4 linked regions of the Homo sapiens genome follow. The protein of the gene in region 2 interacts with the protein of the main gene of each other region in a biochemical or structural test. Each region holds a gene or a part of one and is shown on either strand. Other genes may lie near its edges.

Region 1 (7,022 bases), on a different chromosome or scaffold from region 2:
TAAACTCATTTAACATGTGCTCCACTTCATAATTAAATTCCTAAAAATCGGATCAAACAAACTCCTCTGTCTTAACCCTTTGTTTTTTAAATTGTTAGGGACCCCTCTGGAGGGGAAAGGCACAGGCAGCCGCCCCCTTCCCCCCCACCGCCGCCTTCACCCCCACCCGGCTGGGTGGCTGCCGATGTACGTTTTAATTACCGGCTCCAGCTGAAGTCTCACGTGGCCTTGGCTTTATTTATTTATTTATACCTTAATGAGGATACTGAATCTTTGATTAAAGTCGTAATCGTTGCCGATTCAGTAAGGAGGGGGAGTTGGATGTCAGACCAGACAGGGCTGTGAGTGCAGACACACGGAGAGAGTGGGTTCGGGTGCACACACAGACTGGCCCTTACTGTGTTAGACACACAACTAATTAGTACCAGGGTCTGCACAGGCCTCCACTCCCTTGAGTTTGATGGGGCTGGGGGCCAGGCAGTCCGCATGGCTCTGGCAGTGAGGATGGGCAGGTAGCAATTTCCCCAACTGAGAACCCTGGGCCTTGGCCCATCCCCAGATCTGCAGGTGAGGGACTCGCTGGCCGAGCCTCTGAGCCAGTGCAACACCCCATAGATTGGGGTGAACTGGTGTCAAGGCACGATGCCACTCTTTGAGCTTCTCTCATCTGATTCCCTGATGGAAGTGCCCCTCTCATGGCATGGGTGCTTCTTGCAAATCTTCCACCCATGAGAAAGTCACTGATCAGACCCCAGCATCCGCTCCCCTCAGAGCCCTAAAAACCCCTCAGAGCCATCAGAACAGATGAGAATTTATGTGGGTACAGGGGCCTAACTTTGGGAGGGGGGAGCTTTGGTTAGTGGCCCGAGGAGGGGAGAGACAGGAGAGAGTAAAATATCATTTTAAAAAGGAAGTGAAGGCACAGGCATGCGAGTCTATAACGAGAAGGACAATTTATGCCCAGGCACGAGCGCAGTTTGACATGGGGATAATGCAAAAACGTAGGTCATTGTGGATGACTTAAACCTTCAGCAGCTGAAGAAAATGTATGAAATGCAGAGGACATTACACGGTTGGCAGCCCCGCACATCTGCAGAGGGACAAGTGAAATACAGTGGGCCATTCTTTACCATAAACTGTGGTTGTTGGAGATGCAGCCCAGAGAAATTGTAATTACAGTGACAAGACGAATCAGCGATATTTAAATATTCATGAACAAAGTCTGGGGTGATCAATCTATCTTTATTGTCTGCGCCTTCACTCCTGTAATAAATAAGTAGCTGGAGTCCTCACCTTTCATCCCCCAAGCCCCCCACTTTGGATATGAAAGGCAAGATGGTTATTCTCCACACCCCAACCTCTCATGCTCTGGAGATTTAAGAGTGGGATCCTCAAAAAAGAAAAGGCAGTTCTCTCCAAGTTTCATAGACCCACCATTTCCTGGGTCTGTTCTGGATCCTCCCTGTGCGATACACTGAGGCTACAAGGATGGGTGAGGCTTGCTTCTTATCCTGGTGGTGCTTCCATGCTGGAGGTATGGTGGGCAAGCCAGTAGATACAGCATAGTGTGTCAGCAAGCTGACAAGTATATGGTACCCTGACTCTAGAGCCAGACCCAAACCTGAATCCCAACTCAGCTCCTTACTTGCCGTTTCACCTTAGGGATGATGTGGAAGCATCTCATTTTTTTCTCAACTGTAAAATGAGACTAATATCTTTCTTTAAGTTTGTTGCCATGATCATCTGATGCGATCACATCACACATCTGAGTGCTCAGGAAATGTAGCCCATTTTAATGCGAAAGTGGCATAAAAATGATACCACACTAATAACAGAACAAAATTCTGGGCATTTCTTCTCTTTGGGGACACAGAAGAAAGTGTGATTCATTCTGCCTGGGGAACTAAAGGGAAGCGTCCACGCGGGGGTATCATATGAGCTGGGCTTTGAAGGATGATTAGGAGTTCACCAGGGAGAAAAGAAGAAATCGAGCAGAGGAAACAGCTATGTAAGACTGTGGAGGAAGGAAATTGGGGACTGTAGAAGGTGTTTGGGGGACAATGTGAAGTTCCTCAAATTGGAGAGATTTCTTTGAAGGTTGGGGAGTCAGGCTGGAGTGACTTTCACCCTTAACCTAAAGGAAGGGGAGAAGAGGTCATCTGAGAAGCAAGATGGTGAGGTCTCATGTATCCACAAGGGGGCTTGCTTTCTGGGGACTGCTGTCCATCCCTGAACCAAATGGGCTCTCTTTCCCAGGACTGGCCCTTGCCCCACAGATGATCATGGGGCCACAGTAAAGTATGGTCATGTGTGAAGACAGGTATTGCTTGTTTATTCAATGGAGGTGTGGCCGTGGATCCTTAAGTTGTCTTTGGAGGTGGTGAATACAGGCCGTCGCATCCTTCTCATGCACAGAATGTGCCCTACTGTCCCCTGAAGAGGGGGCAGGGAGAGGCAAAGGCCTGATCCAGCCCCTTGTCTCCACAGGCGACCACCCCTACGAGTGTGAGTTCTGTGGCAGCTGCTTCCGGGATGAGAGCACACTCAAGAGCCACAAACGCATCCACACGGGTGAGAAACCCTACGAGTGCAATGGCTGTGGCAAGAAGTTCAGCCTCAAGCATCAGCTGGAGACGCACTATAGGGTGCACACAGGTACCGAAGGCCAGGGAGGGGCCTGAGCTGGCTCTGGGACCTGGGCGGAGGTGGGAAGCAGATAGTCTCCTAGAGAAGCCTAAGTGAGGATGATCCCAGGCTGAATCAAAGAGTAGAAGAGGTTCTATTAAGAGCTGGTATGGTGGCCTGAGGACCACCACACCCCAGTCAAGGTGGCCTGAGGGCCATCAGTCAAGGCCAAGGCAGACATTACTAATCAATCCCAGCACACTTTCCAGTGAGCCCCCATCAGCCCTCCAGGCAGCTATACCAGTAGTTCAGAGGTGACATGCAAAATGATGTCTGTATATGAGTCCTGAATTAGGGGTAAGTTGGTCCAATTAGCTGAAAGTGAAGGTTAGGGTAATTTCATGTTACTCAAGGGTTAGAGTAAGAATTAGGATACATTGAATTAGGTTGTTATGAAGGTTGGGAAGTTGTAAAGTTAGATTGTGTTTGGTTCTGAGATTAGAAGAGCAGATATATTTAATAATCCCTATATGCATATGATGTTTTACCACTTCAGAGTGCCTTCACATTTTTTTTTTTTAGACGGAGTTTCGCTCTTATTGGCCAGGCCGGAGTGCAGTGGCACGATCTCAGTTCACTGCAATCTCTGCCTCCTGGGTTCAAGCGATTCTCCTGCCTCAGCCTCCCAATTACCTGGGATTACAGGTGTGTGCCACCACGCCCAGCTAATTTTGTATTTTTTTTAGTAGAGACAGGGTTTTGCCATGTTGGTCAGGCTGGTCTCGAACTCCTGACCTCAAGTGATTCACCCGCCTCGGCCTCCAAAGTGCTGGGATTACAGGCGTGAGCCACCGTGCCCATCCACATTATTTTTTGTATTGGAAAAAGAAATGTGGGCCACTGTTTTCCCTGAGGTCAAAAGACAAAACAAGTGAAGGGTCTTCCACAGTTTCCCAAGTTGGGGGCAGTGAAGTCCTGGAGCTTGCTTGTGAAAGCTAATTTTTCACATTTCTTCACAACTTCAAGTTCAGTGACACCACCTTAGTTGCTTAAAATTGGCCACTGTAGGAGTATTCACATCATAGCAATCAGCAGATGCTACAAACCAGGGCTTTTTGGAAAGCCAGTCATGAAACATTTACCACCAGCACACTGCTGGTTGTGGGGAAGGTTGATTTACAGAAGGGTGAGAGGTGGTGGAAGCTGGAAAACAAAGACGCCCCCTCTGATCAGGGGAGACAGCTGTCCTGTCCAGAGGAAGGGGGAGAGGTGGCTTCAGGCAGGTCCTGCTGGCTTAGAGGAGAGTACGTTGCCCTTGGAGGGGAAGGGTGGACAGAAGGAGCAGTAAGCAGAGCTATGTGTTGTCAGAGCTCGTTTTTCGTGTCCCAGTTTGAGCCCACAAGGAGAGGGTTGGGTGTCCGTTGATGACAACTATAGTGGCCCAGAGGATTTCCCAGAGCCCTGGGGTTTCCTTAGCCCCTTGTCAGGGATGTGACCTGGCAGGTGGATCATTAACTGTATTGGCAGTGACTATTGTAAATAGCTGGTCGATAGTTAGATCACTTTGGCTGTTCATTACTTCATTATTTGCTGGGGCCTGTGCGCGGGGGAGTATTGATAGCGAGATGGCTGGCCAGTTAATTACTGTATTGAAACAAGGTTCCCTTACATCCTCTGCTCAGCTCTAGGGGACTCTATGGAAGGAAAGTTGGGGTATAGAACGCTAGGGTGTGGCTGTGCACTCCCAGGTTCTTTATCCCTCCCATCCCACCCCACCCCCAATTCCAGCCTCAGGAGGGAGGCAGGGTCCAGGGCAAGGTCTTAGCGGTTTTAGCAGGATAGGCCGGGTGGGGGAGCTCATGCCTATAATCCCAGGACTTTGGGAGGCCGAGGCAGGCAGATCACTTGAAGTCAGGAGTTCAAGTCCAGCCCGGCCAACATGGTGAAACCCTGTCTGTACTAAAAATACAAAAATTAGCCGGGCATGGTGGCGGCACCTGTGATCCCAGCTACTTGGGAGGCTGAGGCAGGACAATCACTTGAACCCGGGAGGCAGAGGTTGCAGTGAGCTGAGATTGCACCACTGCATTCCAGCCTGGGTAACAGAGTGAGACTCCATCTCAAAAAAAAAAAAAAAAAAAAAAAAAAGGCCGGGCGCGGTGGCTCACGCCTGTAATCCCAGCACTTTGGGAGGCCGAGGCGGGTGGATCTTGAGGTCAGGAGATCGAGACCATCCTGGCTAACAAGGTGAAACCCCGTCTCTACTAAAAATACAAAAAATTAGCCGGGCGCGGTGGCAGGCGCCTGTAGTCCCAGCTACTCGGGAGGCTGAGGCAGGAGAATGGCGTGAACCCGGGAAGCGGAGCTTGCAGTGAGCCGAGATTGCGCCACTGCAGTCCGCAGTCTGGCCTGGGCGACACAGCGAGACTCCGTCTCAAAAAAAAAAAAAAAAAAGAGAGCTTTAGCAGGATAGGTGTCCCCAGGTGCAGCATATTTGAAGGACTGGGTTCCCTCAATTTCCCCCCACCCCTGCTCCCCACCATCTGTAGCCCTGAAAGGTCTCGATCCACCTGCTCTCTGGACGGAACTGTGGCTTGAAGAGCCATTCCTGAGGACTTTGGGGCCTTTCTCTTTCTAGACACCCATTTTCTTAATTAGAAAGGGAAAAGACTGTGGCCTTGGGAGAGTTAAGAATAGTAAGACAAGGAGCTGGGCAATCCAGTAGTCAACTAGCTACATGTAGCTATTTAAATTAGTTACAATGAAATAAAATTAGAAAACTGTAGAGCTGCAGTCGCACCAGCCTCATTCATAGCCATGTGTGACTGGTGGCTGCCGTCTTGGGTGGTGCCTTCATTGTCCCAGAAAGTTCTGTTGGAGCAAGCCCAGCTGGAGGAACCCAGCTTCCCTGGCACGCCTGAGGGTGACATGGTGCCCTCACCGCCTTCTGTCTGTCCTCACTTTCTCCTGCCCTGTCCCTCCGCCCTCAGGTGAGAAGCCCTTTGAGTGTAAGCTCTGCCACCAGCGCTCCCGGGACTACTCGGCCATGATCAAGCACCTGAGAACGCACAACGGCGCCTCGCCCTACCAGTGCACCATCTGCACAGAGTACTGCCCCAGCCTCTCCTCCATGCAGAAGCACATGAAGGGCCACAAGCCCGAGGAGATCCCGCCCGACTGGAGGATAGAGAAGACGTACCTCTACCTGTGCTATGTGTGAAGGGAGGCCCGCGGCGGTGGAGCCGAGCGGGGAGCCAGGAAAGAAGAGTTGGAGTGAGATGAAGGAAGGACTATGACAAATAAAAAAGGAAAAGAAAAAAAAAAACAGAAGGAAAAGGAAACCTGGTAGCTTTTTGGCCTTGGATTCTCTCTGGGCTCCAGATGACCTGGATGCCAAGCCACTGCCCCTCCTCTGGGGGCCTCCACCCTCCTCTCCCGGCTGGAGGTTTGCCTGATTTTCTGGGATGGGGTTGGGTATTTTGTTCACTCAAATGGTGGCACATTTTTCTCCTTCCTTCACCCAGACCTTCTTTTATGTGTCCAGAAATGGAGGCTAGAAAGCAGGTGAGAGGTCCTCTGGTCAGAGCCACACGGTCTGTGCCGGCCTTCCTCCACCAAGACCCCCAGGAGATGAAGGGAGGGAGGAGGTGAGCCAGAAGGGCGCTCCCCTGCTGATGGGTCTGGGCTGGGTCACTAGCTGCTCAAAATGGCAGCTCTAGTTTGCTGGCGGCTGACTGGGGAGGAGAAGGGCTCTGTTTCTCTTCCCACCACTCAGCCCACCTGCTGCTTTCCTCTGCTTTGCCACATCTGGGTGTCCCCCGGTGGTCTCTGAGAGCCTCAGGACCCCTGCCCCTCCTCCAGCTCTTTGTTCCCAGCCTCCCCTTGACTCCTGTCCTCCAAGTCCCAGGGGAGTCCCAGCCCCTCAGGGACCTGGCGGTGTCTCCATCCTTCTCCGGTTCCCTAGTGGGATAGCTGCCTCTGACTTCAGGGTCCCTCCTACCCTCAGCCTTCTGAGAACACAAAACAAATCCAATACCCCACCCTAGTCCAGCACCATCGTGAGCAAGATTCCTGCTGCGCTGCTTCCAAAATGGAAAAGCATCACAACTAAATACCTAATATCCTACCAAACAAACCACAGTCCCTACGTAGCCCTACTTCAGTCCCAGGAGAAGGAATCCATGAATGGGCTGAGGTTCCGAGGGTAGGTTGTGGATGTCTTTCTCTAGAGGGGTCCCACACCTGGAAAAGAGGACACCCAGCCCGTGGGATGAGGGAAGCTGGGCAAGGGAGAAAGTTGTTGAGTCACACTGGGGACCCCAGATGTAGTGAGCTCAGCAAGAAAAGCCAGGTCCAGAGAGAGTCGCACAGAATTCCTGACTCACAGCGCCCCTCGG
Region 2 (7,190 bases):
TATATCAGTTTTGAGATAATTTGATTGACATGAGCCATCACTGAGAGCCTGGGTATTCTGAGAAAGTTCAATATCTAGACCTAAAGCTCAAGGACCAAACTCTAGCTTAACAATTTGTTGATCCACTGCCCTATGAGAGTTCTAACCTGACAACATCTCCCCAAAACATCCCCCCAAAACATCCCCATCGCCTAAGAGTGGTGTTTAAATATTTCCAAGACAGCTTGTTGGTTTGGCCAATTTAGTCAATTGGCAATTTTGGATAATTTAGTCAAGCTATTTAATTTAGTCATATCAGTGGGAGAAATGTCAAATCATTTAGCTGATATTTGGAATGTAAACAAAAATATAGATAATTTTCATTTAAAATTTTTTTCCACCAGTTGGGTTATATAGCATTTGAGGATAGAACTAGGGTGCCTTTTGCAAGATTCTAGTCTGAACATGGTGCTCAGGCCTGAAGCTGTCTTTGGGGCAAAGGGAAATTAGAACTCTCCCTTCTCCTTATGTTCTTGGGACCAGATTCAGCTGGAAGCAGCTGGTCTCAAGAATGTACTGAGTCTGACATCCATTCATCTCACTACATCAGTTTCACCTTAACTTACTTAATAGTCCTCTGTGTCACTTTTCATGTGATGCGTAGACAAAGAGGTAGTTTGATGAAAATAATCACTCATGTTGGGCATTTCACTGAATTTTAAGCTGGTTTCTACAAAATGGCCAATCTGATTGTTATTTCTGAATAAAAGACCTTATTTTTTTTTCCATTTGCTTTAATTGTGACATTTCACAGACAGGCACAAAAATAATATGCAAAGATTCATCAATAATGGGCAATCTTCTTAACTACCCTCCTTTTAGAGACCCCCAGGTTAGGAAAAGTCCAGTGACAATTAAAGCAAGGCTACTCTATGGGTAAGTGAATTAAAGAAAAGTTGGTATAAAGTATGTACGTGGGTACATGGGTATGAATGGTGTGTGTGTGTGTGTGTGTGTGTGTGTTGAAGTTGAGAGAAGTGGCAATGATATTGGCACTCAGTGTGGTGGCTGGGGTTGGGGAAAGTTAAAATGACTCTGAGAGACCTAGATTAAAAAGGAAGACCCATATATATTAAAATCATTCCGTAATCTGTACCTCTAATCTTTACCTCTATAACCAGGGCACTATGTCTAGAATTTTTACGCATTTTTGCATTTATGTATTTCTTTTCTCCTTTGAAGTTTCATCTGTGTGTGTGGGTGGAGGTGAGGCGGCAAATAAAATTTGTTCTGAACTCTGTAACCTTCTAGCAGAGGAAGAATTTCTCTCAAGAACATTTACTTTTTTAGCTTAGTCCTTTAAAATTTACTGTTAAGTAATCTCACAATAAACAACAGGTATTCATTAGAAAAAAATTAATTTAATGTGATTTACTATTTAATTCTGCTAGCTCAGCTACACTTGTCCTGCAGAGCTGCATAATTTATTCAAATGGCCTGAAACTTTTTAAGTAAGTCTACCAGCAGAAAAATTATTCCCTACTCCCAGGAGAATGAACTTTTTGTGTTGTACTGCTTCCCAGGACTGACACTTATTTGACTCTCAAGTGTATTTACATTGTTGGCTTAACTGGGAGTTCTTTGCTGAATCAATAATATACAGTATTTCTTCAAGTGGTGTCAATATTATTGCTATTCTTTTTATAAACTTTTTGTTAATTCTCTGCAGTTACAAAATTTTTCTTTGACTTGTGAAAAAAATTACTCCTAAGATTATGAAGACGCAGAGTAAATGGCCCTTTAATCTTCTGGGAAATATGTACCTCTTTAAACTTTATTTATGTCAGAACTTACTGTAATGAAGGACAAAAGCTCTAGACAAGGTCCCCTGTTCCTTGTGGGTGTTCAAGGCTAGGTCTTCCGGAGACAAGCCTGTAGTTTGTTCTCATAATTTTATAGCTCACCTCCTGGCTGTTTCTTTGCAAGGGGCCTAAGAGGGTACAAGAAAAAGAGCAGGGTGAGAATCTGACCCATTGTGACCACTCGGGAGGCCCTGGCCTGGAAACTTCCCCTTTATGTGGCAAAAACAAACATTTGAAATGGAGGGAGAAACCAGGTTTAAACAATGAGTGAAAACAGTTTCCATCTCAGCTTTCCTGCTGATAAACATATGTGCCCCCTCATTTGTTTCTGAAACATAAGTTTTCCATCATTTTAACAGAGCCTCAGCCTCAACTGAATCTGTCCAGAGCATAGGAAACAAATATTTTGAGATTTAGTAAAATGGTGCATACATATATTAGGGGCATTTTGACAATGTTCAAACTGTTTACCAAACAAACTTTATGATGGCCTATGCAAACCTTTGAATCCTACTGTATTTTTCACATAACGATGACTTCTCACTGATCTCATCTGCCTGTGTGCTACAGTATTGACTTTAATATTAATGGAGAAACAGACAGATATCAAAAGCCATGTGATTTGTCTCATGCCATTTGCAATTTTGTCTTCTGTCATCAACACTGACTTCTCCTTCCTTGTTCTGCTGAACTCCATACTTAGGTGCCCAGCTACTTCCTCAGAGCCTGCCCTCATTCTTTACCTGTGGCCTGCAGCATGGACAGGTGCATTCTTGCTGCTTATCTGAAAAATATGATCCACAGAAATAACTTGAATCTTTTTGCCCATTTAAAATGTGCTCTAGGTTCTCTGGTTCTCTGTACTAACTATAGAAAGCCATCTAGTCACAAGTTTCTCCTTCCTGTGGTCTCCATTTGGGCAATACAATTAAGAAAAATACGTTTCCCCACATAACAATTCTTCCAATTCTTTTCCCCTTCTTTGATGCTTTTATGATAGATTATGAATGGTCATCAGTGATTTTCTGTAAATGCCACGTTTCCTTTTTGCCAAGACAAAGAGTGAGACTAAGGGACCATCTAGTGCTTCCTCTTGTGGTATAGAGGCTAAACAGCGTGAGTTCTGATATTAGTTTCCTTTGATTTAAATGCAAGTGTCTTCATTTAATAGCTGTATGATCTCAGAAAAGTTATTAAACTCTATGAGTCCTAGTTTCCTGATTTGTAAAGTGGGGGCTAATATGAATAGCTTGTAATAGCACCTACCATATGCTAGGCATGATTTTAGGCACTTTAAACATATTAGCTCATTTAATTTTCCATTAGCTTATTTAAAATTCCTACTCTACGATGTAGGTAATTTATATCATTCTCCTTTCTCAGATGAGAAACTGAGACATGAAGAAGTAAAGTAACTTGGCCAAGGTCAGAATTAGTAAGTGGTAGAGCTGGGTTTGTAAAGCCAGGTAGTTGGATCCCAGAGGCTATTTACTAACCAGTGTGCTATATTGCCTCTCTATTAAATTATTGATGATAAATAACTCATCACAGTGTTCGGCACATAACATTTATTGTCAGCTAGTATTATCACTACCATCACCTGTTCTTATCTTTCTTCATTTTGTCACTCTTGCTTCTGCTGGATTGGTTGTGTAGTTTATTGCCCCCACTGCCACAAGAGACAGCAGCAACAGTGATCTAGGTTGAAATAGCTAGCGAATCCCTCTTCACTTTATGTGCTTTGTATTTAAACCACAAATATGACAGAGACCTATGAAAGGAGACTAAACCTCTTTTTGGTCGTGTAAAAATTATATTCCTGCAATCTCCAACCCTCCAGCAACAAGCCAACAAAAACTGCGCAAAGCAAGGGAGAAATTTTAGAAGTGGTAGACTTCAAGTAAAATTCCTACCATTCTTTAATAAACAGGGGTAAAAATTTCAGAAAGTAATGAAGGTTGTGAAAGCTGATGAACAAAGACTTTGCTACTATAATAAATTTCCTAGTCTCTACTCACTAATTTCTATTAGAATGCCAATATCAGGAAAAAAGGAAGAGAAAATTCTGTAAATAATTACTATATTTTTCTCCTACCAAGTAAGCCACTGACTTCAAAATTCTCTAGCACATTTGTGGAAACTTCATTTTTTTTGTTTGAGATTTATTTGAATGAGCTGTTATGATTGGAGACAGTGAGAATTTCAGATTAATGTTTTGCAGACAAAAAAAAACCTCTCTGGAAAGCTGGCAAGGGTTCATAAGTCAGCCCTAGAATTATGTAGGTTGAAGGCTCCCAGTGGACAGACCAAACATATAAGAAGGAAACCAGAGATCTGGTGCTATTACGTCCCAGCGTCTGAGAGAACGAGTAAGCACAGAATTCAAAGCATTCTGCAGCCTGAATTTTGAAGGTAAGTATGAACAATTTATATATAATTTACTTGGAAAGTAGAACATACATTAAATGAAAATATTTTTTATGGATGAACTTCTGTTTTTCCTGTGTTTTAACACTGTATTTTGCAAAACTCCTGAATTATTTAGCTGCTGTTTCTCTTACAGGAGTGTGTTTAGGCACTAAGCAAGCTGATTTATGATAACTGCTTTAAACTTCAACAACCAGTAAGTCTTCAAGTGGAATTTATTATTGATTCTTTTATGTTAATTTGTTAGGTCAAAAGAAAAATCTTTAGAGCAAAATAAAAGTTTTGCTCTTTATTAGGAGGTTCTTTAGATATTACACTTTTAATTGGGTAGCTTATTTGCATGTATTTTGAAACTATCTAAAGTAAATAGTGTTTCCTTTGTATGCTTATCTTTAGCTAATGTGTTTTTTTTTTTGGTTTTAAAATAATGCTTCTAGTGAAAAAAATCACAAAAACCTCAACACTGTAACGTTTGAGAGCAACGGCTATTCAGTTCGGTTAAACCGAAAAGAGAGAAAAAGAAAAATGATAAGACTATATCATGATTAATCATTGATGTTCATTTCTCATTTCACTGAGCAATCTAAACTACTTCTACTTGAACCTAACATAGGTTTGGCTGTTTTTTTCTTTATCTGATTTAATTGAAAATGGATTGTTTAGATATTAAATAGACCAAAATTAGATATCTATATCTAAAACTAATATTCTCTATTAAAAGGAGAAGACTTAGAAATATAAATATATTTCATAACTTCTTCTTAACTATATTATTATTGTGAAAACAATAGAAAAGTAAAACTAAAGGAATTATTTTTAATTATTAAAGACAAACCATGATTCCCCATCACAATATGTTCCTTTGGCATATTCTCTTTTAGTTTTTTATATACTTATTTTTTCCATTGCTTATGTTACTTATATTTTCCACAGCTGTAGTGATTTGTATGTAATTAGTTACTTAAATAGAGCATTTCTCTATGCAATAGCAAGCAGCAGTGTGGTTTCTAGAAAGTATACAAACAGAGATATATGCTCAAGTGTTTTTTGAAAGATTAACTTTTCTTACCTCTGGGTTTCTTATTTGTTTCACACATTTCCTGCCCTGACTAATCTTTTGAAATATTAATTTTCTTTAAATCTTTCAAAAACATCATAGAAAAGATGGGCAAAAGGTAGTTTTATTCAGAACTTTGAATCTCTGAAATGTCTTTTTTCTACTATCAGGAAAATTATTTCTCCTTTTTCAAGAGGTAAAATGAATTCTTGTTTTACAAGCCATGGCTCTGTTTCTTAATGTTTTCTATAATCACTCACTTTTTTTTTGCTTTTGACAAACATTCAAAATGCTAATGATTCAAGGATGTCCTCAGCTCTGTATGTGTTCTAAGAGTTCTATGTTTTTTCTCCACAGAAGGCATAAGAACTAGGAGCTGCTGACATTTCAATATGAAGGGCAACTCCACCCTTGCCACTACTAGCAAAAACATTACCAGCGGTCTTCACTTCGGGCTTGTGAACATCTCTGGCAACAATGAGTCTACCTTGAACTGTTCACAGAAACCATCAGATAAGCATTTAGATGCAATTCCTATTCTTTACTACATTATATTTGTAATTGGATTTCTGGTCAATATTGTCGTGGTTACACTGTTTTGTTGTCAAAAGGGTCCTAAAAAGGTTTCTAGCATATACATCTTCAACCTCGCTGTGGCTGATTTACTCCTTTTGGCTACTCTTCCTCTATGGGCAACCTATTATTCTTATAGATATGACTGGCTCTTTGGACCTGTGATGTGCAAAGTTTTTGGTTCTTTTCTTACCCTGAACATGTTTGCAAGCATTTTTTTTATCACCTGCATGAGTGTTGATAGGTACCAATCTGTCATCTACCCCTTTCTGTCTCAAAGAAGAAATCCCTGGCAAGCATCTTATATAGTTCCCCTTGTTTGGTGTATGGCCTGTTTGTCCTCATTGCCAACATTTTATTTTCGAGACGTCAGAACCATTGAATACTTAGGAGTGAATGCTTGCATTATGGCTTTCCCACCTGAGAAATATGCCCAATGGTCAGCTGGGATTGCCTTAATGAAAAATATCCTTGGTTTTATTATCCCTTTAATATTCATAGCAACATGCTATTTTGGAATTAGAAAACACTTACTGAAGACGAATAGCTATGGGAAGAACAGGATAACCCGTGACCAAGTCCTGAAGATGGCAGCTGCTGTTGTTCTGGCCTTCATCATTTGCTGGCTTCCCTTCCATGTTCTGACCTTCCTGGATGCTCTGGCCTGGATGGGTGTCATTAATAGCTGCGAAGTTATAGCAGTCATTGACCTGGCACTTCCTTTTGCCATCCTCTTGGGATTCACCAACAGCTGCGTTAATCCGTTTCTGTATTGTTTTGTTGGAAACCGGTTCCAACAGAAGCTCCGCAGTGTGTTTAGGGTTCCAATTACTTGGCTCCAAGGGAAAAGAGAGAGTATGTCTTGCCGGAAAAGCAGTTCTCTTAGAGAAATGGAGACCTTTGTGTCTTAAACGTGAGAGCAAAATGCATGTAATCAACATGGCTACTTGCTTTGAGGCTCACCAGAATTATTTTTAAGTGGTTTTAATAAAATAATAAAATTTCCCCTAATCTTTTCTGAATCTTCTGAAACCAAATGTAACTATGTTTTATCGTCCAGTGACTTTCAGGAATTGCCCATTGTTTTTCTGATATGTTTGTACAAGATTGTCATTAGTGAGACATATTTACAACCTAGAAGTAACTGGTGATATATCTCAAATTGTAATTAATAATAGATTGTGAATAATGATTTGGGGATTCAGATTTCTCTTTGAAACATGCTTGTGTTTCTTAGTGGGGTTTTATATCCATTTTTATCAGGATTTCCTCTTGAACCAGAACCAGTCTTT
Region 3 (7,820 bases), on a different chromosome or scaffold from region 2:
CACTTGAGCCCAGGAGTTGGAGGCTGCAGTGAGCCAAGGTTGCACCACTGTACTCCAGTCTGGGTGACAGAGCACCTAGAGGGCCCTGTCTCAAAAAAAGAAAATAAAATGCATTTAATACACCTAACCTACTGAACATCATAGCTTAGTCTAGCCTACTTTAAACATGCTCAGAACACTTACATTAGCCTACAGTTGTGCAAAATCATGAAAAACAAGCCTATTTCATAATAAAGTGCTGAAAACCCTATGGAATTTATTGAACACTATACTGCAAGTGAAAAACAGAACGGTTATACTGGGGACTGGAAATATGGTTTCTACTGAACGCAGATCGCTTTCGCACTGTTGGAAAGTAGACAAATCATGTCAGACCATTGTAAGTTGGGGAGTGTCTGTACTCACTCAATACATGACCCCAAGCCTTGTGGAATGCCACGTGGGGGTCTATTATGTCCTTCCATAGCCAAGAATAGGTCGTGGCAGGAACTCCGGTTCCTTTGAGGATACCGACAGTTTCACTTTCTTTTGTTTCTCCGTGCTTCCCACCTCCCCGCATCCCCCCAACCCCACCAGCCTGCCAAGCCCGCCCAGCCAGCTGGGTGTTCTCGTGCTCTCCTCCCTCCGCCTCTGGCCCCAGCTGGTGGAGATGAATACAGTGTCAGTGTCTGAGCCACAGGGACGTTCCACAGGCCCAGCCTTGTGCTGCCTTCCGATCCTTGTCTTCTCCTACTTGCTTCACTCTATCCTTCTCATTTCAGCCCTGGCCGGATTTTTCTGCTGTGTGGTTACACGTCAGGGTCCTGGAGCCAGGCTTCCTGGGTCCCACCGCAGTTCCAGCAGCAATTAGTGCTGTGCCTGCAGCAAGCGGCTTCACTTCTGTTGATTTCAGTTGCCTAAGTGTAAACAGGAATAAGAACAGCGCGTGCCATAGTTCTGTTGTGAGCATTTACTATGAAGAACTTTCTTTTTTTTTTTTTTTTTTTTTGAGACAGGGTCTCGCTCCGTCTCTCAGTCTCTCAGGCTAGAGTGCAATGGCAGGATCTCGGCTCACTGCAATCTCTACCTCCTGGGTTCAAGCGATTCTCATGCCTCAGCCTCCCGAGTAGCTGGGATTATAGGCATGTGCCATCATGCCCGGCTAATTTTTGTATTTTTAATAGAGACAGGGTTTCACCATGTTGGCCAGGCCGTTCTCGAACTCCTGACCTCGGGTGTTCCACCCGCCTTGGCCTCCCAAAGTGCTGGGATTATAGATGTGAGCCACCGTGCCTGGCCCACTATGAAGCCCTTTCACACTGTCTGCCACACGACAACTACTGTTGGGGCTCAGAAAATGTCACCCCAATATCTGGTGCTTTGGCATGCTAAGTACTATGAACTACAGAAGACTGGAGGCCTCAAAAGCAAGGTCTCTGTGACGCCCTCCTGACCTCCTGTCTCCAGCCCCTCCTTCTCCCGTGAGGCAGTCACAGAACAAGAATTCCTCCTTTGGCAGGGGATGAGGTGACTCAAGTCTGTAATCCCAGCACTTTGGGAGGCCGAGGCAGGTGGATCGCTTGAGCCCAGGAGTTTGAGACCGGCCTGGGCAACATGGCAAGCCCTGTCTCTATAAAAAAAAATACAAAAATTAGCCAGTCATGGTGGTAGGTGCTTCTAATCCCAGCTATTCAGGAGGCTGAAGTGGGAGGATCACCTGAGCCCAGGAGGTTGAGGCTGCAGTGAGCCATGATCACACCATTGCACTCCAGCCTGGGTAACAGAGCAAGACCTTGTCTCAAGAAAAAAAAAAAAAAAAATCCTCCTTCTCCAAGGTGGGTCACAGAAACTAGAACCCGTGTCTCCAAAGTAGCCATAAAACCTAGAAAGGTGGCTCTCTCCCTTCTCTCTTTAAAGACCTCATTACAGAGGGGTTCTACCTCATACCCAGGAGGAAGGAATGCTGCATGGAGAGCCCAAGAAGAATCTGGACAAGACTTGTTCATTTTCTTTTTATCCAATTGCATTGCTACAGGGCTGTTCATTCTTCCTTGAAACTAAGCACAAAAATGGACAGATTTCCCAGGGCCTTTGAGTCTTCATCTCTGAAGCCTCCCATGTCACATGAAGCTTTGCTTAACTAAACTTGGTATGCTTTTCTCTTGTTAAGCAGTCTTTTTTTACAGGAGTGTCAGCTGTGACCTTTATGATGGGTGAGGAAAGGTATCACACCCTTCCGCCCCTACAGGGTCCTGTAAATGTCAGTTTAGTAAATGTCAGCTCTAATCCTAGGAGTTGTTTTGCGGTTTTTTTGTTTTTTTTTTGACATGGAATCTCACTCTGTTGCCCAGGCTAGAGTGCAGTGGCAGGATCTCGGCTCACTCCAACCTCCACCTCCCAGGTTCAAGCAATTCTCCTGCCTCAGCCTCCCAAGTAGCTGGGACCACAGGTGCACACCCCCATGCCTGGCTAATTTTTGTATTTTTAGTAGAGACGGGGTTTCATCATGTTGGCCAAAATGATCTCGAACTCCTGACCTCAAGTGATCCACCGGCCTCAGCCTCCCAAAGTGTTAGGATTACAGGCTTGAGCCACCGTGCCCGGCCTGTTTTTCATTTTCTCCTTACAAAGTGATCACAACTTTATTATATACCTAAAGGCTTGGATTAAATCCCTCTAGAATCTGGAGTGTATGGGAAATATTTTTTAGAAGGAAATTGATCAGGCTGCGCACTGTGGCTCACGCCTGAAATCCCAGCACTTTGGGAGGCCGAGGCGGGCAGATCACCTGAGGTCAGGAGTTTGAGACCAGCCTGGCCAACGTGGCAAAACCCTATCGCTACTAAAAATACAAAAATCAGCCGGGCATGTTGGCACCCACCTGTAGTCTCAGCCACTCAGGAGGCTGAGGCAGGAGAATCACTTAAACCCGGGAGACGGAGGTTGCAGTGAGCTGAGATCGCGCCACTGCACTCCAGCCTGGGTGACAGAGCCAGACTCCATCTCAAAAAAAAAAAAGATAATAATAACATAATATTCTAATATTGACTGCTTACTGAGAAATTACTCTCTTCTAAGTACTTTACTAATAACAATAATTAATTACCAATAATGAACTAATAATAATAATAGCAACCAGTCCTAAATCAAACTGGATGTAGCCATTTGGCTGGTCTCTAATTTACCCCTAGACTGGGGGGATCTGTGCCTCCTAAGAGGGCATTAAGTTAGGCCTATGGGCCCTGCAGCCCTGCAAAACTCTCCTCATCCATCCAGAGAAACCCTTTCTTTGCATCTGGAGAGACTATGGGTCTTGGTATTATCTAAGGACTCACCCAGGCAGTTTTGTAGGTTCCCACCTGGTTTCCCCCACCCTAGGAATAAGACCAAGTGCTCAGGTGTACCCTGAAGGTTTCCATACCTAGGTGACACTAAACAAAAGCTGGTGTTCTCTAAAGGAAAGTTGATGTTAGGAAGGGACCTGGAGGTAGAGCGGATTAATGTTCTTGTTGCGGTGGGGGGATGTGGTGGTCAACAATCTTTAAGGGAGGTGCCAGGTGAGGCAGGAGACAGCCCTTTCTTTCCTCATGTACAATTGGGGGAGGAATTTCTTATGGTTTTTCAGCTAGAGTTTTCTAAAACTTTTGGTATGCTGATTAAAGTGGGCTCCCACCAATTTGGCTCCTCAGGTGTTGCTTTTTGTTTGTTTGTTTTTCCCAGACAAGGTCTCACCCTGTCGTCCAGGCTGGAGTGTAGTGGCGTGATCTCGGCTCACTGCAGCCTCCCCGGTTCAAGCAATTCTCGTGCCTCAGCCTCCTGAGTAGCTGGGACTGCAGGTGCACACCACCATGCCCTGCTAATTTTGGTATTTTTAGTAGAGACGGGGTTTCACCATGTTGGCCAGGCTGGTCTCGAACTACTGAGTTCAGGTGATCCACCCTCCTTGGCCTCCCAAAGTGCTGGGATAACAGGGGTGAGCCACTGCGCCCAGCCTCATCTTGTGTTGGTAATAACAATAGCTTGTGTGTCCTGCCCATTTACTAAGTGCCGGGCACTGTTCTCTCCTAGAACAAACCGTAGTTAGACTCCTCTGAGTCCTCATCTTGACTAGGCCTCGGCCTTGGACCTCTGTGTCTTCCTGTCCTTGCTGGGCCTGAGCCTGCATAATAAACCAGTTTCAGCAAGAGTCCTGCTAAGTTAGCAAGAACTCCCCCATCCTTGATGTCTCCTCCTAGGAATCTTCCATTCCTGCTCCCTCATTCTGCTCTGGCTATAAATCCCTCCTTGGTCCTTGTTGTATTCGGTGTTGAGCCCAAACTCTCACTCCATGGCAATAACCCTACAGCAAGTCTTGAACAGTACTGGTTTAACAACAGTCCCAATAACGTTTTCTTTAACAACAGCAGTTAGCTCATTTAATCCTCATAAGGATCATATGAGGTAGGTAGCCTAAATAGCCCATTTACACAGGGAAGTGGGAAGGAGAGAGGGTGCCCCCAAGGATGAGACACAAGCTGTTGCCACATCAGCACTTTGCGCCTGGACGGTCCCCCAGTTGTCCTGGCTGCAGGCAGTCCGAACAGTCCGCTTCCTGGAATATTAGCCAGGCAGGATACGCCCTGGGCGACAGAAACTCCAACTTTCGCCAGCGGCCCCCAAGTACTGCCTGGGCGGTGGCGGGAGTCTGGAGCTTGGCTGAAGGCGCGAGCTGCCGACGCCGTCTCCTAGCAACCAAGCGGCGGTCACGTGACCCGCTCCAGCCCGTTTCACGTGGTCTTGAGCTGCGCTGGGGTTGGAGTGGCCGCAACGGGCGGGGCGGGGCGGGGCCGGGCAAGTTTGTTCCCCGAGTTCGGAGCCTAGGAGCCCCCCGCGGCTGCGGCGCAGGTGCCCTCGGCCTGAGTCGGGATGGAGCTGCCTGCTGTGAACCTGAAGGTGGCGACGGGCTGGGGGGAGGGTCCCCTTTGCGGGAGGAAGTGGGACATTTGCATTTTCCCGGAAGGTGGGAGGAAGGACCGGAGTTTTGGGGAAAGAGGGATGGTAGGGAGGAAGGGAAGGTACAGACCCCACGCAAGAAGGAGATGGGCAGGCAGGCCACAGCAGGGAGAGTGATCCAGGCACAGGCCAGCAGGGCGACACTGAGGGGCCGTGGGAGGTGGCAGCGGAGGGCAAGGGCCGCCCCCTCCCGGACTCAGACCCTCCCAGCGGGCAGCGCCGGTCCCAGCATTGCTGTTGCCTGCACGCCCAGAATTCCCCTGGAGGAGGAGGAAGGTGCGCGGGAGGGGCTTGTAGGCGGCTCACCTCCCCCGCGCGGGGTCAGGGACTGGGCTTGCCCCCCGGGTCCCAGCACCGTTTCAGGAGCCTCCTTGTTTGCTAAGTCGGGTTAAGGAAATCAGATGTTCCCAAGCAGTTGGTTTTATAAAGTTTACACATCCAGCGCCCTTATTTCATAATCAAGAAGCGCGAACTCCAACAGAAATTACTTAAAAGCAGAAAACCCCAACTTTGTGCACTGGGGAAAACACTGCAGGGCTTCCTGTGGTGTCTTCATTTCCCGAGCCGTGAGCTCAGTCCGGGTCTGGGTGCCAGCGGCTGTTCTTTTTCTCCCCGCCCAGCCCCGCCGCCCACGTGTCTGGGCTCCATTTGCATTAGAGGGGCTAGGGGCTGTAGTTTTGGTCAGGAAGGTGTGGACCTTGGACCAAACCGGCCATTTTGGGTCTTAGTGCAGCCTCCTTTGAGGCAATATCCAGGAATGTCCTCTTACTCATGAATGACAGAGCATTTAGCTCCCTGTTGGTGTCTGGGACTAAAGGAACCTGAGAAATAGATGGTTACAAAACAATGGCTTAATACACTTTATTATTACACAACATCTGTGCTATGACTTGCTATAGGCATGTTTCCCTTCTTAATCATACTTGCTTCAGCAAACCTTCCTGAAGCTTCCAGTCAAAGGTGGTGGGGAGACATGGCTGGAGCAAGGGAATGGGCTTGGATGGAACGTTCAGCTGGGAAGAAATTTACGTGACAGCAGCCGAGGCTTGTTGGTATCAATATGCACTCTATTCCAGGCAATGTGGGGTTAACACCAACTGCCTTTTCTCTGATGAGGGATTTGCTTAAAATAATTGCTGACAGAGGATCAGGTGAGGGCAGTGGGAGGGACAGAGCTCTAATTTATGGGCTTCTGTGGTGTGCCAGGTTATTTAATCAAGGCAGCCTTATGAGAAAGCTGATATGGTCATCTTTTTACAGATGAGCAAACTTCAGCTTAGACTGGGTAAATTGCCAAGGTCCCACGGGGAGTAAGTGGCAATATCAGGATTTGAACCCATAGGGATCAGACTCCAGGGCCAGGTCCTTTCTGGGGTACCAGCTTAGGGCTGACTTTAACGTTGGCTGTTTCTGTCCTTTGGGAGGGCTTAGTCTCTTTGGGGCTTTTTTTGAGCAACTTTTTGGGCCTGACAGGCTAAGAGCATCCACAGGTATGAGCTATGCTGGCTTTCGGTACCCAGGATGAAAAGGCTGGTCCTCCCCTTGACTTGGCAAACGAGACCCCAGTCTCCAAGGGTGTTAGCCGCTACCAGTCAGAGACAACAAAGTGCTGGAAGGCCCTGAGGGGTCAGGGTTGTCAGGTCGTGTACAGGAGATCCAGGTGAATTTGAATTTCAGATCAACAACGAACAGTTTTTTAGTATGAGTAAGTCTCAGGCAATATGTGGGACATATTAACAAATTATTCATGATCTGATATTGGAAATTAACTGGGTGTTCTGTATTTTTGTTTGCTGGATCTGGCCACCCTGTGGAGGGCAGCTGTTGACTCCTTGCTTATAGGCACTTAGGGGATGTTCTGAGTTCAGAGCCCTTCAGGAGGTGGGGAACTGCTCCCTGTGGCCTGCACTCCCTCCCCACTCCCTCGTTTTGTATATTCCTTGGGCAAGGGCTGAGTGCCTGCTTCTGCCCAGCTCAGCCAGAGTGGGCAGTGGTGCCAGGTGAGAAGAAACAACTGCCCCAGGCCCTTTGCACAAAGGGCAGCTCCTGACCAAGCCCTGTCCATGTCTCTTGAAGCCAGGTCCTGAGCTGCAAGAATGACATTGTGATGAGCTTAGAAAGGACTGGACTAGGGTACAGAGGTCTTGTGGGAAGAAGACCTTGGGAGGAGGATCTGGTGGTCTAGGAGGTAGTCGTGTAGCATTTGGGTTAAAAACTCAGTAATGAGGACTGCTGGGATGGAGGGCTGAATTCCTCACAGGCACTGTGTGGAGCGCTTCCCACACCTCTCCACCTCCCTGTACCACTGGATCCACACAACAACACTGAATCAGGCAGTATTGCCCTTCTTTGCAGAAGAGCCAACAGCTGTTCTGAGAGGTCAGGTGACTTGCCTAAGGTCACTAGGTTCTAAAGTCATGGAGCCAGGATCAGATCCACCTGTTTGCCTCCAGTACCCACGAAGTTAACCGCTGCACAACTCTGCCTCCCATCCTTGGCAGCCCTGACTGGTGTCCCTGGGCCCCGGCCACCCTGGGGGATCTCACTAGCACGTGTAACAGGCCACCAAGTGTTTGCACAGGACTGGTAGGAGTTTATTCCATTTCTGGGAAGTCCTACCCCGCCATGGGTCCTCTAGTGGCAAACAAAGGGTTTAAGTCTTGGTCTGCATGCCCTGCTGGTTTCTCTTCAGCCTTTCCTTCTCCAGGTTAGACTTCCTCATTTCCATCTGCCCTCTACGGCTCTTCGAGATCCTGACGGTGTAGCACAGTGGACAGAGCACAGGCTTTGGGGGCAGGCAGGTCTGCATTCAAGGTCTTGAGTAGGTTTCTGTGTGACCTTGAGTAGGT
Region 4 (7,022 bases), on a different chromosome or scaffold from region 2:
CTTGTTGGCTGCCAACTTGGGCCCAGACTGTGGTCACAAACACACCCCTCTGGCTGAGAACAGGATCAGGACATTTCTGCAAACCCCTGACCTAGTAGAAGAAATGTTCTAGGAGGCAGGTTGGGGTTGCTGAGGCTCAGCTGAGCCCCCAACTTAGGCCAGGGAAGTAAGGCTCTAGCTGACACCTGGAGTTTGCTGGTAATGCTTGTTCTCCCAGGACATCCTCAGGGGATTCACTATCCACTGAGCTGGAAAAATATCCAGTTGCCTTGCCAAGTTCACATCCAAAGGACAGGCCATCCTTCCATGGCCCCTTGGAGGCGTCCTCAGTAATGGGATGTGAGTGGGGAAATGTTGAACAATGTGGTCAGTGATTCAACTCCGGGGAAACCTAGGCCCAGAGAGGGTCCCAGGAACCCTGGCTGCTCCAGACTGGTGCAACTGCCAGGCCCAGACCTTCTCCACTCCCCAAAGTCTCAAGGACCAGCCACAGCCCAGCATCCTCCTATCCTTCAGACCTCTCTGATCACTCTTGCCATTCAGAGATTCCTGACTCCAGTGCCTTCCACCACTCCTCCTCCCCTCTTTGTGCTATCTTGAGTGGAATGACCTCCTTCCATGAGATCTTGGGCCAGGAGAATAGGTCGAAAAAGACTTCAACTAAGGAAAAGTGGGGAAAAACATGAAGGCCACATTCTTCTTTCTCTTACCCAGGCCATAGGCAGGGTTCACCAAGGAATGATCTCGTCCTGTGAAACATCTCAGAGAATATAAGAGCAGGGGCCCCTCAGTCCTGGGATGATACACATGTTACTTCTCTACTGCATCTGTAGTAGACATTGCTAATCAATTCCAGCTCCTTTCTGCTGAGCCCAGACAAAGCCTCCCAATCCTTCCAAATATGGAACTCACAGAACCACCAGTGGAGCTGACGCTTACACTCTTTTTTTTTTTTTTCCTACAGAGATGAAATCTCACTGTGTTGCCCAAGCTGGTCTCGAACTCCTGGGCTCAAGTGATCTGCCCACCTAAGCCTCCCAAAGTGTTGGGATTACAGGCGTAAGCCACCACGCCTGCCTGGAGCTGCCACTCTAAATAAAAGCTATTGATCACCTCTGATCTAGCCTAACTTCAATAGGAAAACTGAGTCCCCTAGAAGGCAAGGGTCTTACCCAAGGCCAAACAGAGATTTATTGCAGAGCAGACAGGATTTCAGGCACCAGCTTTTTTTTTTTTTTTTTTTTTTTTTTTGAGATGGATTCTTGCTCTTGTCGCCCAGGCTGGAGTGCAGCGGCACAATCACGGCTCACTGCAACCTCCGCCTCCCGTGTTCAAGATTTTCCTACCTCAGCCTCCTGAGTAGCTGGGATTACAGGCACGCGCCACCATGGCTCAGCTAATTTTTGTATTTTTAGTAGAGACGGGGTTTCGCCATGTTGGCCAGGCTGGTCTCAAACTCCTGGCCTCAGGTGATCCACCCGCCTCAGCCTCCCAAAGTGCTGGGATTACAGGCGTGAGTCACAGCACCTAGCCACCGGCTTTTAAAGAGTTTCTGTAGGCCAGGCATGGTGGCTCACGTCTGTAATCCCAGCACTTTGGGAGGCCCAGGCAGGCAGATCACTGAGGCCGGGAGTTCGAGACCAGCCTGGCCAACATGGCAAAACCCTGTCTCTACTAAAAATACAAAAATTAACCAGGCCGTGGTGGTGCACACCTGTAATTCCAGCTACAGAACTGAGGCAGAGAATCGCTTGAACCTGGGAGAAGGAGGTTGCAGTAAGCTGAGATCGCACTACTGCACTCCAGCCTGGGCAACAGAGTGAGACCCTGCCTCAAGAAAAAAACACAGTTTGTGTAGAGGAGATAGTGTTTATGTTTTGTCTACCCTACCACATGGTGAGCTCCTTCAGGAGAGGCCCTGGGTGTAGTTTAGCTTCTGACCTTAATATACACAGCAGGCACACAGTAGATGTCCATGAATGTCTCTTGGCTTAGTGAGGAGGAATGCATGACATGAGTTAGAGGGAAGGCTTGAGTATTCACTCCTAAAGTCAGAAGATGCTTCAAGGTCACACATTTACAGATACTACCTTCTCAAAACGACATACATGGGAACCCAGATAGATACATTTTTAATCTAAAGATGAGGAGGTGGGCCGGGCGCGGTGGCTCACGCGTGTAATCCCAGCACTTTGGGAGGCCGGGGCGGGCAGATCACAAGGTCAGGAGATCGAGACCATCCTGGCTAACACGGTGAAACCACATCTCTACTAATAATACAAAAAATTAGCCAGGCGTGGTGGCGGGCACCTGTAGTCCCAGCTACTTGGGAGGCTGAGCAGGAGAATGGCGTGAACCCGGGAGGCGGAGCTTGCAGTGAGCCGAGATCCCGCCACTGCACTCCAACCTGGGTGACAGAGCAAGACTCTGTCTCAAAAATATAAATAAATAAAAATAAAAAATAAAGATGAGGAGGTGAGGGGACCTCCGTGTGAATGTGGATTTGAATTGTGTCTATAGCAGAAATTTTACCATAGACTAAACTTTCAAACAACAGAAGCTAAAAGAGCTTTCAAGTCAACTAAAATATGACATTTCGATGAATGTCAGTGGTTTCAAACCGCATTGCTGACTATAAATATCAAAGTAATGAGGCATGTGGGGAAAGTCTCTTATATCCATATCATTTATGTGGCATTCTATTATTTAACTTTGCCATTAAAATATGATTGATACACTTAAGCTTCTAAGGATCAACACTCTAGAGTCAGCTTTTTTTAAGTATCAAAAAAATGCATCTAGACTGGGCACTGTGGCCTGCAATCCCAGCACTTTGGGAGACTTAGGTGGGAGGATCCCTTAAGCCCAGGAGTTGGAGACCAGCCCAGGCAACATGGTGAAACCCTGTCTCTACAAAAAATTGGCTAGGTGTGGTGGCTCACGCCTGTAATCCCAGCACTTTGGGAGGCCGAGGCAGGCAGATCACGAGGTCAGGAGTTCGAGACCAGCCTGGCCAATATGGTGAAACCCTGTCTCTACTAAAAATACAAAAAAAAAATTAGCCAGGCGTGGTAGTGCGCACCTGTAGTCCCAGCTACTCGGAAGGCTAAGGCAGAAGAATCGCTTGAACCTGGAAGGCGGAGGATGCAGTGAGCCAAGATCGCGCCACTGCTCCAGCCTGGGCGACAGAGTAAGACTCCATCTCAAAAAAAAAAAAAAAAAAAAGCTAGGCGCAGGGGCTCACACCTGTAATCCCAGCACTTTTGGAGGCTGAGGCAGGTGGATCACAAGCTCAGGAGTTTGAGACCAGCCTGGCCAATATGGTGAAACCTCATCTCTACTAAAAATAAAAAAATTAGCCGGGCATGGTGGTGGGTGCCTGTAATCCCAGCTACTCAGGAGGCGGAGGCAGAAGAATTGCTTGAACCCGGGAGACGGAGGTTGCAGTGAGCCGAGATCATGCCACTGCACTCCAGCCTGGGCAACAGAGTGAGACTCCATCTCAGAAAAAAAAAAAAATTAACCAGGTGTGGTGGCATGCATCTGTAGTCCCAGCCACTCAGGAGGTTGAGGTGGGAGGATTGTTTGAGCCCCGGGGGGTGGAGGGTGCATTGAGCCAAGATCATACTACTGTACTCCAGCCTGGGTGATAGAGCAAGACCCTGTCTCGAAAAAAAAAAAAAACAAGAAAAAAAAATGCATCCATGGCATTTAAATAGATATACCTAAAATATAAAATAAAACTTTACATTTTATTTTCTTTATTTAAATTTTATTTTATTTTATATCTGGGTCAACCAAGGACCGAGAACCTATTTGCTTCTGTGGCCTCTTGGACACTCCTTTAGGGAAACCAAGGCAACCCACCAGGATTTGGGCCTGGGACTCAACTCAGCAGCTTCTCTGGCCGTGTTATTCTCCATCAGCCCCCGCCACCTCCCTGTGCCTGTTCTGGGCCATAAGCCAGAGACACATTCCTCAGGCCCCCACGGGGCTTCCAGAGCTGACAGAGTTTGAGGAAAGGGCTGAGCAAAGCAGAAACCTCTTGAGAGACATGGCACAAGATGGTCATGGGACAACCTCAGCAGGAGGCGTGTAACAACTGATGGGGAAACCGAGGCCCACAGAGGGCAAGGGTCCCACCCAAGACCACACTGTGAGGGAACAGTGGAGAAAGCCATTCAACCAAGGTTCCTCCACAAAACTCCTCTCTGATCCTGGCTGGAAGGATTTGATGTCCTACTCTATAAAAGCCAAGGCCTCTGGGCGTGGTGGCTCATGCCTGTAATCTCAGCACTTTGGGAGACTGAGGTGGGTGGATCACCTAAGGCCAGGAGTTCAAGACTAGCCTGGCCAACATGGCAAAACCCTGTCTCTACAAAAATATAAAAATTAGCTGGGCATGGTGACGCACACCTGTAATCCCAGCTACTTGGGAGGCTGAGGCAGGAGGATCACTTGAACCCAGGAGGCAGAGGTTGCGATGAACCAAGATCATGCCACTGTATTCCAGCCTGGACAACAGAGCAAGATTCCATCTCAAAAAAAAAATAAAGTAAAATAAAAGCCAAGGCTTCTCCCAAAGGAGGATGGGTCTTGGGGTTTTAAGGCCCAGGCACTAAAAGAACCTGAAGTCAAGAGCTCTCCAGGCCCCACAGGAAAGAATCTGACCTGCCCCTTCCCCAGTCCGCACCCCTCTCTCCCTGTGTCACTCAGGTGCTGGCACACTCTGCCATGTACATTTTTGCCCTAGTCGCAACAACCCAGAAAGGCAGGAGCTACATCCCTGTTTTACAAATGAGGAAACTAAGGATCAGGGAAATGAAGTGACTTGTCCAGGGCTACACAGCTAGTGACTGGAAGACAGAAAATGCAAATCAGGTCTGCTTGGCTCTATGCCAACTCTCCCTCCACCACCCCACACTGTCTTCAGGCAGGTCCCCAAATTCTGTTTCTGTTTTCAGTCCTGCCCACCTCCCAGCCCCCAGTGCTGGGATGGGGCCTTCTGAGGCCTGGGGGAGGTAGAGAAGCAGTGGAACACCTCCACCCAGCCCCTCTGAACCCTGGAACGTCAGTGCTTACCCTCCAGCACCACCTCCTTGCCTGTCTTCTTGAGGACCTGCACCGCCTCATCATGGGTAGCAGAGGACAAGTCTTCCCCATTCACAGACAGGATGGCATCCCCCACAAAAAGGGCCTCTGTCTGGTCAGCTGCCAATCCCTTGAAGATCTTGGAAATGAGAATAGGCATCTTGTTCTCCCGGCCGCCTGCACAGGTACAGAAGGAGGACAAGACTTAGGCAGATACTCCAACACTTGGGAGTCACATCAAGACACAATTATTTCTGAAGGCTTCCCTTGGTGCCTAGCCCAGTGCTGGAAAAGGCAATGGGAGAATAAAGGGAATCTGAGAAAAATCTTGGAAGTTTGGGACACTAGTAACACTAATAATAAATCATTTTTGATTAGGTCCGGTGGCTCATGCCTGTAATCCCAGCACCTTAGAAGGCTGAGGTGGGCAGGTCACCTGAGGTCAGGAGTTCAGGATCAGCCTGGGCAACATGGGAAAACCCCGCCTCTACTAAAAATACAAAAATTAGCCAGGCACCTGTGGTCTCAGCTACTAGGGAAGCTGAAGTAGGAGGATCACTTGAGCCCAGGAGGTCGAGGCTGCAGTGAGCTGAGATTGTGCCACTGCACTCCAGCTTGGGTGGCAGAAGGAGACCCTGTCTCAATAAATTAATTAATTAAATAAATCATTTTCAAAATTCATAATGCTATAGTTTGATCCCTGGATCTTTTGATTAAGTGCTTTGGGTGTTCACCAGTGTTTGTGCAACTTACAAAGTGCTTCAATCACTTTTTCTTAAATGTTTTCGATTTTCTCATGTAACCCATAAATATATATGCCTACTATGTACGCACAAAAATTAAAAATGAAAATAACCGGACAAAGTGGCTCACACCTGTAATCCCAACACTTTGGGAGGCCAAGGTGGTCGGATCACTTGAGACCAGTAGTTTGAGACCAGCCTGGCCAACATAGCGAAATCCTGCCTCTACTAAAAACACAAAAAAGGGCCAGGTGCGGTGGCTTATGCCTGTAATCCCAGCACTTTGGGAGGCCAAGGCTGCCAGGTGGATCACCTAAGGTCAGGAGTTCGAGACCAGCCTGGCCAACATAGTGAAACCCTGTCCCTACCAAAAATACAAAAAATTAACTGGGCGTGGTAGCGGATGCCTGTAATCCCAGCTACTCGGGAGGCTGAGGCAGGAGAATCACTTGGACCCAGGAGGCGGAGGTTGCAGTGAGCTGAGATCACGCCATTGCTCTCTAGCCTGGGCAACAAAAGTGAAACTCTGCTCAAAAAAGTAAATAAATACATAATAAAAAAATAAACAAATAAAAAAATATGGCTGGGCGTGGTGGCTCACGCCTGTAATCCCAGCACTTTGGGAGGCCAAGATGGGCAGATCACCTGAGGTTAGGGGTTCAAGACCAGCCTGGCCAACATGGCAAAACCCCATCTCTTCTAAAAGTACAAACATTAGCCGGGCATGGGGGCGCATGCCTGTAATCCCAGTTACTCGGGAGGCTGAGTCAGGAGAATTGCTTGAACCGGGAGGCTGAGGTTGCAATGAGCCAAGATTGCACCATTGCACTCCAGCCTGGGCAATAAGAGCGAAACTCCATCTCAAAAAATAAATAAATAAATAAATAAATACAAACACAAAAAATTAGCTGGGCCTGGTGGCACATGCCTGTAGTCCCAGCTACTCAGGAGGCTGAGGCAGCAGAATTGCTTGAACCCAGGAGGTGGAGGTTGCAGTGAGCCAAGATCACACCACTGCACTCCAGCATGGGCGACAGAACAAGACTCCATCTCAAAATAAAACAAAAATACAAAAATTAGCCAGGCATGGCGGTGTGTGCCTATAATTCCAGCTACTCAGGAGGCTGAGGCACGAGAACTGCTTGAACCCAGGAGGTGGAGATTGCAGTGAGCCGAGATCGCACCACT

What was found.
Region 1: the proteins of AGTR2 (region 2) and ZBTB16 form a complex in vitro, tested with the Homo sapiens proteins (one study listed by BioGRID).
Region 3: the proteins of AGTR2 (region 2) and AGTRAP form a complex in vitro, tested with the Homo sapiens proteins (one study listed by BioGRID).
Region 4: the proteins of AGTR2 (region 2) and SNTA1 interact in a test that uses a peptide from one of them, tested with the Homo sapiens proteins (one study listed by BioGRID).

The regions. Positions count from the first base shown.
Region 1 is NC_000011.10:114,244,711-114,251,732, forward strand, and holds part of ZBTB16 (zinc finger and BTB domain-containing protein 16), read left to right. Parts: intron 1-2,487; coding exon 2,488-2,655; intron 2,656-5,615; coding exon 5,616-5,845; 3' UTR 5,846-7,022. UniProt on the Homo sapiens protein: Acts as a transcriptional repressor. Transcriptional repression may be mediated through recruitment of histone deacetylases to target promoters. May play a role in myeloid maturation and in the development and/or maintenance of other differentiated tissues.
Region 2 is NC_000023.11:116,166,564-116,173,753, forward strand, and holds the start of AGTR2 (type-2 angiotensin II receptor), read left to right. Parts: upstream 1-4,180; 5' UTR 4,181-4,253; intron 4,254-4,404; 5' UTR 4,405-4,464; intron 4,465-5,682; 5' UTR 5,683-5,717; coding exon 5,718-6,809; 3' UTR 6,810-7,190. UniProt on the Homo sapiens protein: Receptor for angiotensin II, a vasoconstricting peptide. Signals primarily via a non-canonical G-protein- and beta-arrestin independent pathways. Cooperates with MTUS1 to inhibit ERK2 activation and cell proliferation.
Region 3 is NC_000001.11:11,731,325-11,739,144, forward strand, and holds the start of AGTRAP (type-1 angiotensin II receptor-associated protein), read left to right. Parts: upstream 1-4,811; 5' UTR 4,812-4,884; coding exon 4,885-4,911; intron 4,912-7,820. UniProt on the Homo sapiens protein: Appears to be a negative regulator of type-1 angiotensin II receptor-mediated signaling by regulating receptor internalization as well as mechanism of receptor desensitization such as phosphorylation.
Region 4 is NC_000020.11:33,433,759-33,440,780, forward strand, and holds part of SNTA1 (alpha-1-syntrophin), read right to left. Parts: intron 5,269-7,022; coding exon 5,083-5,268; intron 1-5,082. UniProt on the Homo sapiens protein: Adapter protein that binds to and probably organizes the subcellular localization of a variety of membrane proteins. May link various receptors to the actin cytoskeleton and the extracellular matrix via the dystrophin glycoprotein complex.